Linked DNA regions of Homo sapiens. The protein of the gene in region 2 purifies or fractionates together with the protein of the main gene of each other region. This does not show direct contact. Each region holds a gene or a part of one and is shown on either strand. Other genes may lie near its edges.

What was found.
Region 1: the proteins of GABPB1 (region 2) and TPD52L2 purify together in Homo sapiens (affinity purification with mass spectrometry; 3 studies listed by BioGRID and IntAct, with this or other methods). This does not show direct contact.

Annotation. Positions count from the first base shown.
Region 1 is NC_000020.11:63,879,802-63,890,267, reverse strand, and holds part of TPD52L2 (tumor protein D54), read right to left. Parts: intron 7,550-10,466; coding exon 7,448-7,549; intron 4,253-7,447; coding exon of another isoform or gene 4,226-4,252; intron 2,705-4,225; coding exon of another isoform or gene 2,663-2,704; intron 1,079-2,662; coding exon 1,030-1,078; intron 419-1,029; coding exon 323-418; coding exon of another isoform or gene 226-322; 3' UTR 1-225.
Region 2 is NC_000015.10:50,351,953-50,363,021, forward strand, and holds the start of GABPB1 (GA-binding protein subunit beta-1 isoform beta 2), read right to left. Parts: upstream 3,247-11,069; 5' UTR 3,033-3,246; exon of another isoform or gene 1-3,032.

The DNA.
Region 1 (10,466 bases), on a different chromosome or scaffold from region 2:
CTAACATGATTCCCAAAGGGAGCCTGGGCTTTGGCTCAATATTCTTTCAAACCCTCCGCCCTGTCCACTTCCTGCACCCCTAGGAAGGACAGCACAGTGATCTGTTTCATCTACAAACGTGAGTGTAAAACATCTGTGTACAAGCCTGTGTTCTTCAAATTCATGCAAACGCGGCAGCCACATCTCCGCGTGGATGGGCAGGACTGTCCTCAGGGCCGGCTCTGCTCATCCGCCCTGGCTGGCTGCTCCGCTGAACAGAGCTGCGGCTGTGATGCTGAGGCTGGGTTGCGTGTGCTCTGCAGCGGGTGAAGCAACCACAGGCTTAGAAAGGTGCGGGATCCGACAGGGGCTTGTCACCACTCCCCGCTGAGGAAGGGAGGTTGTCACTGCCGTTCTCTCTGTCACCCACAACCTTAGACTACAGGAGAGAAAAGATGAAGACAGAAAAACCTGAGACAGAGCACACAACACAAGGCAGATCCCAGGCCCATGCTCAATGCTCTACAAAAGCTTATGTAACACGAACACTGCTCAGCAGGGACAGGGAGCAAATCACGGACGGGCACCAGCCCCAACAGGTCTCCAGAGAACGATGCCAAATGAAGACAGTGAATGCCAAAAAGCTGCACACTGTATCGTTCCATTTACGTGACATTCTTGAAATGACACAATTATACAAAGGGAGAGTGGACTAGGGGTTGCCGGGGGTAGGGCGGGAGGAAGGTCAGCATGGCCAAGAAGGTACCAGGAAGGGCAGTGGGGACCAGGAAGGGCAGTGGGGACCAGGAAGGGCAGTGTGGAGGCGTTCTGTGTCCTGAGTCAGTGCCAATGTCCTGGTGGGGAGGCTGCACTACAGGATTTTCCAAGATGTCGTCACAGGAGAGAACTGTGTAAAAGGCACAAGGAACCTCTCTGCATTACTTCCCACAACTGTATGTGAGTCTACCATAACTAAATGACTAATAATAAACAAGTTGCTGTAACAGGTCACACCTTGCCAAGACCATCAAACAGTCCAGGTACAATTACCTTTATGGTCCCAACTCGGTCCTCAAACGACTTGAAGGTCGCAGAGTTCCTTTAAAGAGAGAGGGAAGAGTGTCGGTGTCAAGAGGAGAGGGTTGTGCTGCTCTCCTAACTCGGAAGGGCCTCAGGGTTAGGGCCAGCCTCCAAAGGGTCCCTAACAACATCCCAAGATCTCATGGCAAAACTGTGAGACAGCCAGGTCATTCCGGAGACTCCCCAGGTCAAAAGTGAGGTCGGCCATGCCCAACAACCACAGGGACAGGTCCAGACGTCACACAAGGCAACTGGAAACCCCTTGACTGTGCAGCTGGGGAGATGTCGGCCCCTCTCTGTCATACCCTACAGGGACATCCCGGGCTCTCGTACTGAGGTTATGAAAAGTCTGTGCAGTTGGGGGGCTGTCGGCCCCTCTCTGCTGTCCCCTACAGGGACACCCCGGGCTCTCGTACTGAGGTTATGAAAAGTCTGCGCAGTTGGGGGGCTGTCGGCCCCTCTCTGCTGTCCCCTACAGGGATACCCCGGGCTCTCGTACTGAGGTTATGAAAAGTCTGTGCAGTTGGGGGGCTGTCGGCCCCTCTCTGCTATCCCCTACAGGGACACCCTGGGCTCTCGTACTGAGGTTATGAAAAGTCTGCGCAGTTGGGGGGCTGTCGGCCCCTCTCTGCTGTCCCCTACAGGGATACCCCGGGCTCTCGTATTGAGGTTATGAAAAGTCTGTGCAGTTGGGGGGCTGTCGGCCCCTCTCTGCTATCCCCTACAGGGACACCCTGGGCTCTCGTACTGAGGTTATGAAAAGTCTGCGCAGTTGGGGGGCTGTCGGCCCCTCTCTGCTGTCCCCTACAGGGACACCCTGGGCTCTCGTACTGAAGTTATGAAAAGTCTGTGCAGTTCTTCATGCACATCTCTCAGAGAAGCAAACGGAAGACCAAGGACACTTCTGGGACAGCAGAGTGATAAGGAGACAAGAGGAGAAAGCAGGCCAGCTCCATCCCACTCAGTCCCTCCCACACAAACAGATACCCCTCCCAGGCCCGGGGACTCTAGAGGCCAGCACGTCTGCGACACCCAGCCAGAGTCCCCACAAGGAGAACAGGGCTCTCCTGAGAATCAGGGCGGTGCCTGACGGCGCAGGCACAGAATAGGGACCACAGTTCTGGGCTCTCCTGAGAATCAGGGCAGTGCCTCACGGCACAGGCACAGAATCCTGAGAATCAGGGTGGTGCCTGACAGGCACAGAATAAGGACCACAGCTCTGGGTGTTTCCGTGAAGGCTGAGACCGTGAAGTGTCCTGAGTGACAGCCCACCAGGGCAAGTGCCAGGATCTGTGTGCGAGCCCCTCGAACCCCACCCCACCCACTGCAGGCAGCCAGGGTCAGGACTTGGAAAGGACACGGCCCAGTTTGACACAAGGATCTCCTCTGGAGGCTGCAGGTGAAGAGCCTGACCCCCTACCAGCTCTTCCTCGTCAGCCTAGAGGGGGTTTTTACCGGCCCTTAGTCATCAGAGGTTGCCAAGGGAATGGAGTCCTCAATTAATCCAGGAATATGGGAAGGGCAAGGTGTAACCGGCGGGAGCTGCCCCAACCCCCACCAGAGACACCCGGCTCTGGAGCCGCAGCGAGCAGGCATACATTACCTCATGGCTGGCATACTTATTGAGTGGCGGATGGAGTAGCTGCTGCTTGGAAGCATGGCAGAAGCAGAGAAGGAAGCAAGAGTTAACACCAAGATCCACACACAACCCCAACTTGGCAGGGATGGGCAGAGCTGGGATTCCCCCACTCCCAGCAGTTGGAGCGAGCTGCCTGCCCCTCCACACAATGCCCCCGAAGGAAACTCGACCCCAGGGTCCTCCCTTGGCCTCATGGGGGGCACCCCAAGTTGCCCAGCGCATAGCACTGGGAGGGGGGAGAGCACTGCCATAGGAAGCTGTGAGGAGACCAGGCTTGGGCTTTTGAAAAGTATTTGGTACAAACAGCCTTCAGAAGTCAAGTAAGGACCTTTTGGCAAAAGAGAAACCACCAAGTCAAGTAAAAACACAAGAAATCACAGATTGTTCTGGGCCTGGCTCTAGACCTCCCGGTTCCAGCAGAAGGGCACGTGCTGGCGGCGCCCCGGCTTGGCCTAGAGGAGCTTGCTCTGGTCTGCAGGAGGGCCCTTTGGGAGGCACACCTATGGGCTCTCGGGTAGTAAACAAGACAAAACTCCATCTGAAGGAAAACAAGGAAACAGGACAGATGTTGAACAGGAAGGTGGTGAGAGTCGGCACAGCCCTCCCACGTGAAAAGGCTCCTTTGAGGGCCCGGCGCAGTGGCTCACGCCTGTAATCCCAGCACTTTGGGAGGCCAAGGCGGGTGGATCACGAGGTCAGGAGATCGAGACCATGCTGGCCAACATGGTGAAACCCCGTCTCTACTAAAAATACAAAAATTAGCCAGGCGTGGTGGCTCATGCCTGTAATCCCAGCTACTCAGGAGCCTGAGGCAGGAGAACCGCTTGAACCAGGGAGCTGGAGGTTGCAGTGAGCCGAGATCACACCACTGTGCTCCAGCCTGGTGATAGAGCGAGACTCCAACAAAAAAAAGAAAAAAAAGGCCGGGCGCGGTGGCTCACGCTTGTAATCCCAGCACTTTGGGAGGCCGAGGCGGGCGGATCACGAGGTCGGGAGATCGAGACCACGGTGAAACCCCGTCTCTACTAAAAATACAAAAAATTAGCCGGGCGTGGCGGCGGGCGCCTGTAGTCCCAGCTACTCGGAGAGGCTGAGGCAGGAGAATGGCGTGAACCCGGGAGGCGGAGCTTGCAGTGAGCCGAGATCGCGCCACGGCACTCCAACCTGGGCGACAGAGCAAGACTCCGTCTAAAAAAAAAAAAAAGCTCCTTTTCAGGAGTAAACTCAGGCCTGGACGCCAGGCCAGTTATTCACAGACCCGGCAGCAGGCGGTCTGTGAGCCTGAAGGGAAGCACGAGGAGGGGACACAGAAGGGCCGGGGGGTTCCGGGGGGCCTCTGCGTCGATCCCACGCTGCTGCTTTGTTCCCTGAGATGCAGCAACCACCTGGCTGGCACTGCTGTCCTGGAAGGGGTGATCCCACTTTCACTGCCCTCTACTAGCACAGCCGCCCAAGGGCCCTGCCGGAGTCCACCCTGCCCCAATTCAGAGAAAAGTCTTCCACAGGTGTGTCCAGGCTCAGCCTTACCTAAAGGAGTGTGAAAATGGATGAGCCCTGGAAGGTGGCAGCAGGAGAGAAGAGGAAACGAAGTGTAAGCAAGGGAGGCCAGCACCCACTCACAGCCCTCCTCGGGGAGCCCCAGGGGAGGCCCCCTGCTCGTGCTCAGTCAGGCCCAGCAGGGGAAGACCCTCCAGGACGGCTCCTCCAGTCCGCACACCACCGGGGACAGCAGCACTGTCTCCAGTCTCCTCAAGTCCTGACTCAACAGGAGGCTCTCGCAAGATCATGACTAGCAACTGCTCAGCCTCACGGCTGTGCCCAAGAGGCCCCTGGGTCCACGCCCTGTCCACGCCTTATGCCCCAAGGCACACCTGTTTGGAGAAGCCACAGCACCTGGAGCACAACCAGCCCCATCCAGCAGCGCAAAGGTGTGAAATGTGCCACAGCATGACAGCTGGGCTTGGCCAGCTCCACAGAACGAGAGCGGCCCGTGTTCCCCAAATCACGTCAGCTGAGGGAGCACACGCACCGTGGGAGGATGTGGGACACCCTTGGCGCCGAGCATTTCTGCTCTGCGCTCCATCCGTGCCCACAGACGCCAACCTGGAAACCTGTGTGTCCAAGGGCAGCTGCTGCCACTCACTGCAGCCAGGCCCACTCTGACATGGAGGGAGCCACTGAAGAACTGAGAAACACTCAACTCGCCCGAGGTCCTGAGAGGGCCGATGCCTCATCTGAGACCACGGAGTCAGACGGTGACCTGACCCTGCTGTAAACCCCCACTCTGACCTGAATCCAGTTCCCTTCCTCCCATCCCCATCACCCATGCCCCAGGGCACACCAAAGGCCTCACAGACCGGGGCTGCCCTGGGACAGGCCCATCATGGACACGGGCGTTGGGCAGCTGTCCAGAGGGGCTTCCGCCCAAGAGTTAGCAGGGGTCCGCCGGGGTTCATCCAGCCCTAAACTCATGACATAAACCTCCCAGAACCCAATTTTCACTTTCAGGAAGTAGTGAGCTCTCAACCTCAGTCTCTAACTCGAGGTGAATGGGCCCAGACCTCAGAAACCACCTGTGACTGCTTGGGGAGATGATGGGGATACACCAGGGGCTCCAGACGTCAGAGTTCCCACCACCACTACAAACATAAATGGAGGAGCAAGCAGGGCAAGACACACCAGCAAACAGGACCCTCCACGGGCACCGTGAACACGGCCAGCCAACTGGAGCGAGCTGGCTCGTCCCAGGTCAGCCTGAGGCCCCGCTCCCCCAGCTGGCCCCATGTACCAGGGCACACGTGCAAACACGTGGCACAGTGTGGCTGGGCACACTGACAGCTGTGCCAGCGTCACTGCAACAGGAACTCTGCTCACTGCCAGCCATGCCCTGAGGCTACACGACACGGGTCAGCTGCCAACCCCAGGACTGAGCAGAGAGCGAAAGCCTTTCTCCCCATCAGAGAAGGAGGAGCAGACAGAGAACCAGGACCGTGTCCCTGTGCTTCCAGAGAAAAACAGGCCATACAAACAAATGCCCAGATCAAAACCCTAGGACTGGCTTGTGCACGGCTATTCCAATCAGTGCCAAGGGCTCCACGTGCCCCTTGGATTTCCACCACAATGGTCTGAACAAACTCAAAAGGGAGTGTGGACACTAAGAGTGGGCAAACGCCTCCTGATGGCCGGCATAATTTAGGCACAACAAACACCTGTTACTTCCTGAAGATGCTCTGTGGTGAGACCAGCATTTTCGGGAAGAAAACAGCCCTGCGAGGCTGAGTTCAGCTGAAACTCAGGGGGTCCCTCCTGGGTCCAAAGCTCAGCAGTGGTAGGGAAGACCTGCATTTGTAGGGTGCCCCACAAGGACCCCCCCAAGTCACAGCTGCTGGGGAGTGTGGAGCCTTGGGCGTGTGAGGGTGCACAGAGGAAACACACACATTGCATACTGATGACTGCAGCTTCTCCAGAGGTTTAAAACTTCTCGAAATAGAAGTTGCAGGGATGGGAAGGTAGATTACCTCAAAAAAACAAAAATAAAAGTGGGCACAGCTCCTGGGCAGTGGCCATCCCCTCTGCTTGGCAGGGTGGGTCCCTGGGTGTGTGTGGCCGTCTGTGTCCTGGCCTGTGGCTTAGTGGTCAGGGGAAAGCACTGGCGCAGGACGACCCCCACCTGGCAACCACAGGCGGGGAGGCAGGACACACCTAACCTAAGGCAGGCAGGCAGGGAGGCAGGCAGGCAGGCAGGCAGGCAGCCCAGCAGGAGATGTACGTATCTCTGAATCCTGCAGGGGCCACAAGAGGGGAAGAGGGGAGGGCTGGGTGGGGTCAGCACTGTGCTCCACACACCGGTCCTTTAGGAAGCCTGCACCCATCTTTGCCAGGATTGGGTCAGAGCTACAGGGAGGCACTCCCTGAGATCCAAAAGCCAGAAGACCAGTTCTGAGAATGGGAAAGGGGTCAGGGCAGGGTGGGCAGCAGCACCCAGAAGTTGGGGCCAGGATGCTGTTGATGGTGACAACCTATATCATCCACTCCTACAACCCCTGTGAAAGAAGGCGTGCCTGAGGCCCAGCTGGGGTGCCCAGCCAGGAGGTAGCCCAGCCAAGCATCATACCCAGGCTTCTGGCTCAATCCCCTCATCACCATGCTGTAGTCAGGGAGCCTAGAACAGGGAAGGAAGAGCAAACATGCCAGCCACAAAGCGCCGGCCCCCTGCTCACTCCTTGGCCCCAGCCCTGCTTGCTGAGGGACCTCTGATGGCCAGGAGGCTTTCACCAGCCTCTGGGAGAGAAGGCTCATTCAGGGCCTCCTGGCGTCTGACTGCACTTTCTGAGACCTGGGAAACAGCCTGAGGAAGTACCACGCCGAGCCCCTGTCCTAGAGATGGTGGAGGACTGCCGTCCCACACTGACCTGACTCTGACCCCTGGGCTGGAGTCGCTGCCACTCAGTGAAGCTTCAAGGTGCAGACTCCTCCCTCACCAACCCCGAGCACCACAAGTTACCCAACAGCACTGGCAGCCAACCCTCCCTGAAGAACACAGCAACGGCAGAAAAGCAGCCAACGGGGATGGACGAACCTCCCAGGCAAGGGTCTGCACACAGACTGGTCGGGGCCATGATGGATGGCCACATCCCTGAGCCAGTGCATCTGAGCCCTGATCTCCAGGCAGGCTTCCTGTAGCACCTCCAACACCTCACCTCACTCCTGGCCAGGTCTCAGGGCAGCAGAGTCAGGGTTGCGTCTCACCTCATGTCTCCAAGCTTCCTGCTGATGGCAGAGCCCACTGTGGACAGGGCAGCTGAAGTCTTCTGTCCTGCCTGTGAAAGAGTTTCCTGAGTCTTCTTGTAGCTGGAAGACACACCAGTTAAATCAACCAGACAGCATGGGCGGGTCACCACCCACAGCCAAGCAAACAAAGCACTGGGAGCACGCCCGAGGAAAACTGAGGAAAGGAGCTGGGCCAAGGGGTGGACACTCGCCAGGTGTCTACAGAGGGGGTGCAGGCCCAGAGCCCCTCGGCCCCCAGAGGCCCCTGCGGCGAGGAGCCGCCTGTGCATTGCTCGCTCACTGAGCTCTCGGCGACCCTGCCGAGTCTCGGCCCCCCAGCCCTGCAATGACGCTGCTTTCTCATCTCACAACCCAATTTCACCCCCTTGCCTGATACCCACTAAGCTCGCTTTCCTGTCTTCTCACAGCCCCTCTGACTACAGAGAACACGCCCCATTTGCCTGCTAGAGCGGACGGGCCCCCTGAGGTGCACGCCTGGCAGGCAGTGCCAGAGCAGAAAGGCCTCTCAGTGCCCTGACCGGCCCATGCGTGCAAGTTTCCCTTTCCTCTTCCCAAATGAGACTGTGCTGAGGGGAGAAAATGCAAGCTCAACCACGTCTGTGGGGAACGAGCGTCACAGAGTGGCCATGCAGCCCGCAAGGTGCCCCTGCTCCAGACGGCGGGGCCCCGTGTGCCTTCAGAACATCGGACAGTTCCATTCCCAGGCCTCTTTTCACAGTGCAAGGGTCTGTCCTGGCCCCTAGTGAAGGCCCCGCTTCTATCCCCTCCAGCTCCCTCCAGTGTCCACCCACATGGGTACATCCCATCAAAGCAAAGCTCTAGGGCCTTGGCGTCTGCAGGACAGGCAAAGGGCAGCAGGCAGGATGCTGTGGCTGCAGGGATACTGTTGGGCCCACCATGACAGTCAACACCTGAAGTCGCTGGCCCTCATCCAGCTGCCACCATAAACACAAAACACAGCAGACTCTGACATAACAAAGTCCAAAATGCGAACCCACAGCCACCTTATCACGGCTCCTCCCTCAGTGAAGCCAGGGAACTCGAGGCTGAATGGAGATGGGCTCCCAGGACCATCTTGGCGTTACCAGTGCCAACCTGGAGAGCTGGCAAACCCAGCCAAGCCCTGAGTGGCATCTGGGATGACTGGCGCCAGAGAAGGCACAGGCTCCTCCTGCTCCCACTGGCGGCACCAGGTCCCAATGATGGGCCTTCCGGAGCCCTTACTCACAGGCCCTCCCACCACTCCCTGCAGAAGGCCCGTGTGAGCTGAGTGCTACTACTCTCCAGCCCCCAAACAGTTGACAAGAGTGTGTGACCCACCAAGTGTGCCCTGGCAGCGCATCCCAGCGCAGCTCTCTCATGCCCGCCCCCGGCCCAAGGCCTACCAGAGGATGCACTTTCTTTCTTTTTTTTTTTTTTGAGACAAAGTCTCGCTCTGTCACTCAGGCTGGGGGGCAGTGGTGCAATTTCAGCTCACTACAACCTCCGCCTCCGGGTTCAAGAGATTCTCCTGCCTCAGCGTCCCAAGTAGCTGGGATTACAGGCACCCACCACCACGCCCTGCTAAATTTGTCTTTTTAGTACAGATAGCGTTTCACCATGTTGGCCAGGCTGGTCTTGAACTCCTGACCTCAGGTGATCCACCCGCCTCGGCCTCCCGCAGTGCTGGGATGACAGGTGTGAGCCACTGCGCCCAGCCCGCTCGGATGACAGGTGTGAGCCACCGTGCTCAGCCCAGAGGATGCACTTTCCCATCCAGGCTCCGTGCAGCTGGAATCATGGCTGTTTTTAAATTTTTTCTTCTTTTATTAATAAAACACCAGTTATAAGTAACTAATGACCTGCTATATTTAGTTTCAAAAACACAAATTCTTTTTTTTTTTTTTTTGAGACAGAGTCTTGCTCTGTAGCCCAGGCTGGAGTGCAGCAGCACCATCTCGGCTCACTGCAAGCTCTGCCTCACGGGTGCACGCCATTCTCCTGCCTCAGCCTCCCGAGTAGCTGGGACTACAGGCGCCCGCCACCACATCCGGCTAATTTTTTTGTATTTTTGGTACAGACGGAGTTTCACCGTGTTAGCCAGGATGGTCTCGATCTCCTGACCTCGTGATCCGCCTGCCTCAGCCTCCAAAAGTGTTGGGATTACAGGTGTGAGCCACCGTGCCCAGCCCAAAAATACAAATTCTGAAGACATCTTTAACCTTGATTTTCCCTGAAATAACAAATGCATAAAACCATGTGAACATTCTGTGGTTCGCTGAAGCAAAGTCACCTGCAGCAGAGGATTCTAAAGCGCTCACAGCACCTGCATTTGTGCCTAAAGAGTGGGGATGGGGAAGCTGCACCTGCATTTGTGCCCTAAGAGTGGGGATGGGGAAGCTGCACCTGCATTTGTGCCTAAAGAGTGGGGATGGGGAAGCTGCACCTGCATTTGTGCCCTAAGAGTGGGGATGGGGAAGCTGCACCTGCATTTGTGCCTAAAGAGTGGGGATGGGGAAGCTGCACCTGCATTTGTGCCCTAAGAGTGGGGATGGGGAAGCTGCACCTGCATTTGTGCCCTAAGAGTGGGGATGGGGAAGCTGCACCTGCATTTGTGCCTAAAGAGTGGGGATGGGGAAGCTGCACCTGCATTTGTGCCCTAAGAGTGGGGATGGGAAAGCTGCACCTGCATTTGTGCCTAAAGAGTGGGGATGGGGAAGCTGCACCTGCATTTGTGCCTAAAGAGTGGGGATGGGGAAGCTGCACCTGCATTTGTGCCCTAAGAGTGGGGATGGGGAAGCTGCACCTGCATTTGTGCCTAAAGAGTGGGGATGGGGAAGCTGCACCTGCATTTGTGCCTAAAGAGTGGGGATGGGGAAGCTGCACCTGCATTTGTGCCCTAAGAGTGGGGATGGGGAAGCTGCACCTGCATTTGTGCCCTAAGAGTGGGGATGGGGAAGCTGCACCTGCATTTGTGCCCTAAGAGTGGGGATGGGAA
Region 2 (11,069 bases):
TTGGGGAGGAGAGGGGAGCAGAGGGATGACACTAAGGAAACTAAGTTGCTCTCAACTTCAAGATTTTGTGTGGGTTTGTTTTTCAACGTTTGCAAAGTCAGAAGAGATGGAGGCCATCAGTGAGTTCATCTGAACTCAGGCTACTTGCAAACAGAGACTGGGTAACTGCCTCGTGCACCCTCAAAAATAAATTCATGATGCAAAACTTCATGTAATTTCTGAATTTCTGAATTCCTCATGACGTGCACTTTACCTGTTACCTGTTAATATTTCTGGTACTGAGGGGCAAAAGAAAAAAGTAAAAAAAAATTCATGGTACAGGAGATGTGGTCCATTACAATGACACAATGTTATGGGAAAAAACACACTAAAACCAAGCATACTTTTTTTTTTTTTTTTGAGACAGAGTTTCGCTCCTGTTGCCCAAGCTGGAATGCAATGGCGCTATCTTGGCTTATTGCAACCTTTGCCTCTCTGGCTCAAGCGATTCTCCTGCCTCAGCCTCCCGAGTAGCTGGGATTACAAGCGCGCACCACCACGCCCAGCTAATTTTTTGTATTTTTAGTAGAAATGGGGTTTCACCGCGTTAGCCAGGCTGGTCTCAAACTCTTGACCTCAGGTGATCGGCCCGCCTCCACCTCCCCAAGTGCTGGGACTGCAGGCGTGAGCCACTGTGCCTGGCCAAACCAAGTGAACTTAACCAAGATCCAATCTATTTTCGTTTGAACAGCAAACATTAAAAGTACACCTGGTATTTTCTAACAATTACACGAAGAATGACCAGATGCTTCCTGTTGATGGAACAGTAGAGAACTATAGACTGACAGATTCAGACTACAGTTCACAGAAACAACTGGAAACAAACTTAGCTTCCTTTCAAAGCCATTAAAATACGGCCTTAAATTTTTATGCATTAATCAATTAAGTATAATTGTCTCCCAATAAGTATAATTGTCTCCCAACCTAGAAAACCCAGAATGATTCAGAGAGACAAAGAACTCTAAGGATATGTCTCTGCAAACTGTTCGTTTCACCAAAGGATTCACTGCAGAATTAATTTTCTGTAAAATCTGTACCTCCTATAATTTTCAACATGTTCTATCTTTAAAGATAACATTTACACAAGTGTTGATAGCATATGTGGAATTCACGTGTTACTTGTGTAAATCATTATAAATATGTAATAGAATTAAATGTTTTAATCACTTAAGAATATCTTCGAATGTTCCTGAGTCTCCGAGATCATAGGCAGATTATGCAGTCTTCATCTGTGATTTTGTTTAGTCACCTAAATTCCAACTTTTAAAAAAGTTAGAGCCCAGTAAAAAAAGTATGGGAATCAATCTTATTCAGTCTTGTTAAAATGTGTCTTGCATAACAGCTTGATTTGACTTGTATGGTGAAAGCACGGTAAGAATGACACATTTCTGTTTTTTGGTTTTTTTTTTAAAAAAGTATGAGTGTACAGTGGAGTGTTCCAGAGGTTACATGGTGTGCTAACCACAACAGTCTGACGTAGATCTGAGAATCTTCTATTAAACCAGGCATTAAAAAGATTTGCAAAAATGCAAGATGTCACTCTTATCATCTATGTTAACATGTAATGGATTTATTTTTTGTTTTTGGAAAAAAAAAACCAAGAGAAAAGAAAATAAAGTCATCTTTAGTTTCCTTAAATTCAAAGTCTGAGCCTGAAAATGGAAGTATCAAAGCTGATGGTTATACGTCAGTGAGAAAAAAATTTAAACCAAGCTGGGTGGGTCTTTACATGAGATAAACTATCTACAGGAAAGAATGACCACTAACTTCTGCATAATAAATGAGAGTGGATCTTTTAATTCTGAGATGGCAATGTACTTTACAAGGACCATTTACAGACTACATCAAACCTTTTTCTAGATAAAAAACGTACTTCAGTAACTTGCCTGAATTGAGAGAGCAAAACAGTCCGGAGAGAAAACTTAAAATGTTTCCACATTATCAAGCCCCCTTCAGAAGTACTGTGGTCTCGGCCCCTCCTTTGAACAGATGTCCGCTCGCCACAGTCCAATCAGGTTTAAAGCAAGAGTATTTGTACTGAAAACAAGCTTAAAGTGGGAAGACACACACAAAGCAGGCCTGTATCATTCCTTTGGTTTCAGTTTTCACGATGCACCCTTGAGGCTAGGCACGCTGATTCAACACACTTGGAGAGCTTCACCGAAACACACTAAACACACAGTGATGAACTGTGCCCTGGCAGAGATGACCTGGCAAAATTCTCAACTTCTTCCCTGAGGCAGTGCACCCGCAGTTCTCGGCGGCGAAGTCTTTGGGGCAGAAGTCCCGAGCCTTCAGAACGGCAGGCTTCTCCCCCTCAGGACTCCAGTCCCCGCGGCCAAGGCTGTCGCTGCGGGGGCCCCGCGCGGGACTGGCCAGGCTCTTCCATTAACCCTGTCTGGTCCGGCCGATCCCGCCGCGACCCGAGCGCCTCTCGGCCCCGCAGCACAGGGCGCCCAGGACCCGCCACCCTCGCCGCCCGTTCCCCTCTCCGGAGAGCCCGGCGGGGCCGTCAGGCTGCCGAGACAAAGGGTACCGCGGCGCCAGAGGCCGAGGCCCAGCCGCGCCTGCCTTCCTCTTTCTCCCGCCCACTGCCAACCTCCAGTCGCCCGCAGAACCTCCGCTGCCTCGGCGCGACCCCATCGCCACCCCGGGGCTGCCGCTCGGGACCGGCAAGCCGGGTAGCCGCGAGGCGGCCGCGGCATGCTAGGGCCGAGGAGGGGGCGGCGGCCGCCACCATGTCTGCCCGCCCCTCCCAGAAGCAGTGTGCCCAGCGGACAAAGCGCAGCGGCGGCGCGGGCGCCCAGGCCGACCCCGCCGACCCCCGCGGAATAAGCGGGGCCAGGAGCCCCGGAAACCCGGCGCCTTAATGCAATAAACAGGAAATCGCGGGGATGATCTGGGTTCCGGGGGAAGTGGAATTATTTTTTACCAGCGAAGAGATCAACTTCCACATCCGGTGGTAACAGGGCCCTACACAGACCCGCACTGACCTGGAAAAGCTTCGGGAGCGGCGACGGGAAGGCAGCAGGAGGTGGTGCGGGGACCCGAGGCGCCTCGTACCCGGCCGGGCTGACGCGGCCCCGCTACACACAAAGCGCTTCAGCTGCACAGGGCGCTATTTTCCGAAAATGCCGCGTCTGGTCGGCGCCCAAAATCCCCACCGAAAAGTCCCCCGTGCTGCGCGCGGAGGGACACATGGTGTGCGAGTGAGTCAAGCTCCCAGCATCCCTCCCGGACCCGGCCCTCTTCAGCTCATCGCCCGAGGATTTTCCGCCTCTGCCCTCGTCGGCAGATCCTGCTCCTACCCACTCCCTAGCTGTGTTCCCGCGGGGAGAGAGGGGAAAGAGGGTCTGATTTTTTAACGAAGGGAAAGAAAATATGCCATTTCTAGCGCTTCAGCCACACAAAGAAAGCGGCGGAATGATCCGCTCTCGGCGACCGCAAGTCCCGGCTCGCCCGGCGCCTGCGCGGCAGCGGGGGTGGGAGCTGCGGACGGCCATGTGCGCGGCGGAGAGGCCGGGTGGCCACCGAACCTTCCCGCCTGTTCTGCGGTGGGTAGGAGTTTGGAAACTAATGTTCCTGTGCTAACCTTCGTGTCTCTGTGACATGACTGTTGAAAGACGGAGAGTGCGGAATCTTTGGAGTTTTAAGCTTGCCAACTGTGCGGCCTAGCAGAATCCTGGGAGACGGAAGGACAGCCAAGAGGCTAGGATTTACCTTTAAGTGTCCCTAGATTCAACTAGGCAGACTGGGACGGGAGACGCTGTGAAGGTACCAGGGAAGGAACGAGTGAGGTTCCTTTTCCACTTTTTCATAAACTCAACAGTCAGGTTCATGACGAAGATATAGATATTTCTGTAGATTTTTTCCCCAACATTCTAATTATGCCTCATGTTTCGTAGATCCTAGTAACTGCTTGGATTACTGCCACCTCAGAGGTAGAGATCTGTTTTTCCGTGGCTGGAATGCCAAAAATTTTGTTGTATTTTATTAAGAAAGTAGCAAAAGTTTGGAGATTTGCAAAGTTAAAAAAAAAAAAAGCATTATGAACTTAATCTAGATGTGATTTGCTAAGGAACTTAATATATTGATATGTTTTTCACAGGGGCGTCTGGGCATGGCTTTCCCAACCTAGTAACTGCAACTTTTAGCATCCTACATGTAGGACTTGGGAATATGTGAGACAGCGCCAAGAATTTAATCCAGGAGAATTGACAAGCTTAAATGAAATCCATATTGCCCACTGATTTTGTGCAGCTTCAGATAAGTAATCTTTCTCCACTTAGCCTTTTGTAACAATTGATGTAATAAAGGTTTGTAGTCTTTGTGTAATTTATTAAAGCATTGTGCCTAAAATAGAAAAAAAGCATAGGAACCATAGGCTGTGTTTTCTTTTGATTTAATATTTTCATTTCTTCAGTTAATAGAAATTTGCCAAATTCTGATGTTTTTCTGTAGCATTATTTGAATGAGCATTGTTTATTTGAGTGAACATTCAGCTAATTGTTACAGAATCGTTGCCCCCATTAATCTTAGGCTGTAGAATGTAGACAAGTAAATAGGCATCATCAGTATGATGAGAGTGAAGCTACTTAATACTGTGGAATCAAATAAAGGAGGAACCCCTTACTAAACCAAGAGGGAGGAATAAAATGGAATGGGACTAGAGAAGCAATTAGCTTTAATAAGGGTATTATGGAAGACTTTCTAGATGAGAAGCAGTAAGTACAGATGTTTGGAGGCAAACACTAGAGAGATTGTTGGGTAAAGAAGACAATGCTGGAGGTCTACTTGTGAAGGCCTTGAATGCTATGTGCAGAAGTCAGCTTCTGAGAACCAGGAAGAAGATATTGAAAGATTTTAAGTAGAAGAATCATAGGATTGAATTCATTTTAGACAGATCACTGTTACACAAAAATTTGAGGCAAACAGAAGAGTTTGGAGTAAACAGTAGGCTGTGAGCCAGTAATGACTTGGACTGAGTTGGTAGCAGGTAGGTGTGAAGAAAATAAAGTGGTTATTGGGAGATTTGGTTAACTGAAAATGACTGAGGGAGATAGATGTCAGGTGACTCCCAAGTGAGTTGGTGGAGCAGCTAGGAGGATAGTAATGTCTTCACTGAGATTAGAAACAAAATAAGAGAATATATGTTAGGGAAGGAAGAAGTCTTTGTTTTGACCATGTAAAATTTGAAGTGCATGTGAGCCAACCAGTCATATATGTGTAGTGTGCAATTAGATATTCATTCAACACTGTTGGAAGAGCACCTACTCTGTGCCTGGTACTGTTCTACACACTGAAATAGGTAAAGCAGCAGCAAAACAAATGGTTCCTACTCCTGTTTTTTAGAGGGAAACAGCATATAAACAAGTTTTAAAAATAAGAGGAGAGAGAATATCCCATAAATTCGTGAAGAAGGCTGGGTGCAGTGGCTCATGCCAGTAATCCCAGCAGTTTGGGAGGCCGAGGTGGGTGGATCTCCTGAGTTCAGGAGTTAAAGAGCAGCCTGGCCAACATGGCAAAACCCCGTCTCTACTGAAAAAAATTAGCTGGGCATGGTGGCACGCTCCTGTAATTCCAGCTACTCCGGAGGCTGAGGCAGGAGAGTAGCTTGAACCCAGGACACGGAGGCTGCAGTGAGCCGAGATTGCGCCACTGCACTCCAGCCTGGGCGACTGAACGAGACTCCGCCTCAAAAAAAAAGAGTTTGTGAGGAAAATTAAAAGCTGATTGGATAAAGTGTTACTCTGGGGAAAAGAGAGCAAACTTTTGGTGGTTGGTTGATCAGAGATGGCCTCACTGAGAAGGTATTAGAAAGGACAAGAACAGTGTGAGACCAAAGGGAATAGCTGGGCAAAGGCCCTAAGGTGAAAAATTTGTTGTGTTTAGGGAATAGCAAGGTCAGTGTATCCGAAATCTAGTGACCAAAAGAAGGAATGATAGGAGGTGAAGTCTTCAGCCTCAATAAGAAGGTGAAGTGCACTGGAAGCCATTGAAGGATTTAAGAAATGGAGTATCTGGCCGGGCGCGGTGGCTCACGCCTGTAATCCCAGCACTTTGGGAGGCCGAGGTGGGAGGATCAAGAGGTCAGGAGATGGAGACCATCCTGGCTAACATGGTGAAACCCCGTCTCTATTCAAAATAAAAAATTTTTTTAAAAATTAGCCAGGCGTGGTGGCGGGCGCCTGTAGTCCCAGCTACTCGGGAGGCTGAGGCAGGATAATGGCGTGAACCCAGGAGGCAGGGCTTGCAGTGAGCCGAGATCGTGCCACTGCACTCCAGCCTGGGCGACAGAGCGAGACTCCGTCTCAAAAAAAAAAAAAAAAAAAAAAGAAATGGAGTATCATGGACTAGGATAGTAGCAGTAGAGATGAGGGAAGTGGATGGATCCAAAAAGCTGACCTATCTTGCTTACCAATTAAATGAGGAAAGGGAGGAATCAATAGTGATGCCTAGGTTTGGGGCATGTTGTCTAGGTGGAATTAATTTTAATTACACTTTTAACCCCTAGCATATCCAAATATTATTTCACATGTGATCAACATAAAAAATTACTAAATATTAAAAATATTTTACATTATCTTTCTCATAACTAAGCATTTGAAATCTGGTGTGTATTTTATACTTATAGCATATCTCAGTACTTGATTTCATAAAATTTCCAGCTGAAAAAATAGATTCACGTACCCAAGTCGTTCCAAGCATACTTAAAAGTTTTACGGTAATCGAATCGTGTATATTTTTAAATTTTATTTTAAATTAAAGTTAGGATTATGAATTCAGTTCCTAAATTAGCCTCATTTCACTTCTGCATTTCAAGTGGGACAAGTTATTACCATATTGGACAATGCAGTCTAGTGAAGTAGAGGATAGTGGAAAGTCAGACTTAAAAAGTTGTTTAGAACCAGCTCTGGAAGGCCTTGGATGTCAGATTAAAGGACTGAGATTTTACCCTTGAGTCAGGCAGAATAATGGATGGTTTTTGAACTAAGGAGTGACACAAGGTTGTGCTTATGACTAGAAGGAGGCCACTAGGTGGCCAGCTGGTGAGTCAGGACACCCTTCAGTTGCTTTGACTTCAGCCCTGTGGATTCAAAGTCTGATTTTTGTCAGCGCTCTAGAGCAGTCTCACCAAAAGTGTGGTCCACAAGGCAGTGCCAGTCTGTAAGCCCTTTGTTACACATCCATGTCAAGGCATTTACAGAAAGTAAGAATTTAGAAACTTATAGCAGTTTAACAGACTAATTTTATTTCTGTGGGTCTAATAAAAATTTGAGGGATTGTACTTTGCATATTCTTTATTTCCCTTTTTTTGTTTGTTTTTTGTGTTCGAGATGGGAGTCTTTTTCTGTCGCCAGGCTGGAGTGCAGTGGTGCAGTCTCGGCTCACTGCAACCTCTGCCTCCTGGGTTCAAGCGATTCTCCTGCCTCAGCCTCCCAAATAGCTGGGATTACAGGTGTGCACCACCACATCCAGCTAATTTTTGTATTTTCAGTAGAGACGGGGTTTCACCATGTTGGCCAGGATGGTCTTCATTGCCTGACCTTGTGATCCGCCTGCCTCAGCCTCCCAAAGTGCTGGGATTACAGGCGTAAGCCACCGTGCCCGGCCCTTTTTTCCTTTTTAGTTTATTTTTTTCTTTTTTGAGACAGAGTTTCGCTCTTATTGCCCAGGCTGGAGTGCAATGGTGCGATCTTGGCTCACCGCAACCTCTGCCTCCTGAGTTGAAGCGATACTCCTACCTCAGCCTCCCAAGTAGCTGGGATTACAAGCATGCACCACCATACCCTGCTAATTTTGTATTTTTAGTAGAGACGGGTTTCTCCATGTTGGTCAGGCTGGTCTCGAACTCCCAACCTCAGGTGATCTACCTGCCTTGGCCTCCCAAAGCGCTGGGATTACAGGTGTGAGCCACTGCACCCGGCCGTTTTTTTCTTTTTCTAATAATTTTTATCATATTACATAAAAGTACCTATGGTCTCACAGATGAAGGGAGTCAGAAGAACCAAACTCCCAGAAGACATATAAATCTAAATGCCTTTTTTACTTTAGAGTGAAAACTGTAATAGCTAAATTATAATGGACATCTGCTCATTTTCTCCCTCCATGTAGACATGGAAAGCTACACGGAAATAACCGAGTTTATAGTAGCTACCATATATTAAACGTTTCCTGTATGCCAGCCACTGTGCAAAGCATATTATATATATTGTCTCATTTAATCCTCACAACTCTGTAAAATAAGTATTGTTTGCCCCATTTTTCCAATGAAGAAACCGAGGCTAAAATAGGTTGAATAACTTACCTAAATTCACCATCCTCAAAGGTGTTAAAGACAGGATTCCAGTACAGGTCTCTCATTTCCTTCATGATTAGGAATACTACTTTGAAATGAGAGACCTGTACTGTATCTGTTAATTCCAAATTCCCTGGCATAAAGACTCAGTACATTGTTTAAAGAGAATGCATGAAGTTAACTGCATTACCTTTTGGAGGGTTCATTTGTGAATTTGGGGCCAAAGTAAGGGGAGTTACTGGTATTCTAATAGCATCAAACAAATGAATTCATTTCATCTTTTGGGGAGGTGGAGGGAATAAGGTCTCACCTTGTCGCCCATGCAGGCTGGAAGGCCGTGATGTGATCTCAGCTCACTGCAGCCTCAACCTGGGCTCAAGCGATCCTCCCACCTCAGCCTCCTGAGTAGCTGGGACTACAGGTGCACACCACCACGCCCAGCTCATTTTTGTATGTTTTGTAGAGACTGTGTTTTGCCACGTTGCCCAGGCTATTCTCAAACTCCTGAGCTCAAGTGATCCTCCCACCTCAGCCTCCCAAAGTGCTGGGATTACAGATGTAATCCACCACACCCAGCCAAATGCATTCATGTCTACAATAGAAATACATCTCTTTGCTGCTATCTTGAATTTGTAGACTCCCACAAATCAATAAAAAAGAAGACATCCAATAAAAAAATGGGTAGAGGCCAGGCAGTGGCTAACACCTGTAATCCAAGCACTTTAGGAGGCCCAGGCAGGCAGATCACTTGAGGTCAGAAGTTCAAGACCAGCCTGGCCAACATGACAAAACCCTGTCTCTACTAAAAATATAAAAATTAGCCAGACGTAGTGGCACGTACCTGTAATCACAACTACTCGGGAGGCTGAGACAGGAGAATTGCTTGAACCCAGGAGGCAGAAGTTGCAGTGAGCCAAGATCGTGCCACTGCACTCCAGCCTGGGCGACAAAGCAAGACTCCATCTCAAAAAAAAAAAAAAAAAAAAAGGTAGAAACTTAAACAGTCACCTCACAAAAAAGGGTATCTAAATATTAGTTTCTTAAAAAATATAAAAGGGGCGTGTAGATGGCCGATAAACATGTAAAAGATACTCAACTAATTTAATCATTAGAGAAATGCAAATTAAAACCTAAATGATATTTTAATCTCACATCCAACAGAATGGCTAAAATGGAAAACCCAGAAAATGCCAGATGTTGGTCAAGAGTTGGAGTAACTGAAACTACACAGCTGCTGGAAATGTATATTGGTATAACCACTTTGGAAAATGGGAAGTTCAACAAACAGGCAAACCAATCTAGATTTAGGGATATATGTTTAGGTAGTAAAAGTATAAAGAAAAGAAATAGTTAGCTTTGCAGGGAGTAGTGCTTGGGAGGTAATAGGTGCTTCTGGAGTGCTGTTGATGTTCTGTTCCTAAGTAGGGTGCTATGGCTTGAGTTTGGTTTGTCTGACCCTACCAAGTCTCATGTTAAAATTTCATCCCCAGTGTTGGAGGTGAGGCCTGGTGGGAAGGGTTGTGGGAGTGGATTTCTCATGAGTGGCTTCGTATTCTGTAAGGAGTGAGTTCATTAAGAGACTGGCACCTCCTCTCTCCTTTCTCTCGCCATGTGATCTCTGCATATGTCATCTCCTGTCTGCCTTCCACCGTGAGCAGCCTGAAGCCCTCACTGGAAGCAGATACTGCTACCATGCTTCTTGTACAGCCTGCAAAACCGTGAGCCAAATAAGCCGAACATTCTAAGACACTGGGATTACATGAGTGTTAGCACTCTATGACTTAATGAGAAGTAGGTTTTTTGGAGAAAAATGTACTTTCAGTATGTATATTATATATTTCATGGTTATTTTTAAAACTCGTGAGCAATGCTGGATACACACTACCAACTATTACTTCCCTGACTGAGCCAATTTTTCTGTAAATGCATCACAAATGTGAAAGATAAGGTAGGCCTGAATTCTGGGGAATGACAATGGTGAAGGAAAGGCGAGACAGGTGCAAAAGACACTGCAGAACTCAGGCTCAAAATCTCATCCTTAACTCCTTCCCTCATCCCACCATGTTGAATCAGATGTCAATAGCAATTTTATATGGCATTTTTTAAGCTTGCAAAAAGTTATAAACAGAAAATGTTCATTTTATCACTCCATCACAGACGAAAAACATGAAATTAAGCTAGGAAACATGTTCAGGTGATTAGAGTAGATAGAACATAGACTAAAAACCAGTGAACTTATAAAAAAAAATCCCATGATGTGGACAAAAAAAAAGAACTTGTGGCTCCTCACTCCAACTCCTGTGACTCTCTCACCTTACCCCCACTGCCTTCAAGTTTTTTGTAGAAAGAGAAATTTTGTATGGATTGAGTTTAAGATGATGCCAGAATATCAAGGTAGAATTATTAAACACACAAAAGCTAAGGTTTGGTACTCTGAAAAAAGGTCAGAATTGGTGATAGAAAATTAGAAGTTACCCATCCATAGAAGGGTAATAAAGCCATGAGAGTGAAGGAAACCAGTGAGAGAGAATATTGAGAAAAGTACTGAAGGACAGAGAAGGAGAAGCGAAGGAGGAAAGCAAATCAGCATTTATTGAGCATCTGTTAAACTGTATGGCAGCTGCTCTACATTTACTATCTCATTTATTCCTTTCCATTTCCAAGGTAGCCAATTTTAGCCTCACTTGATAGACTGGCTTTGTAGACTCAAAAAGCAGTAAAAAGAACCAGC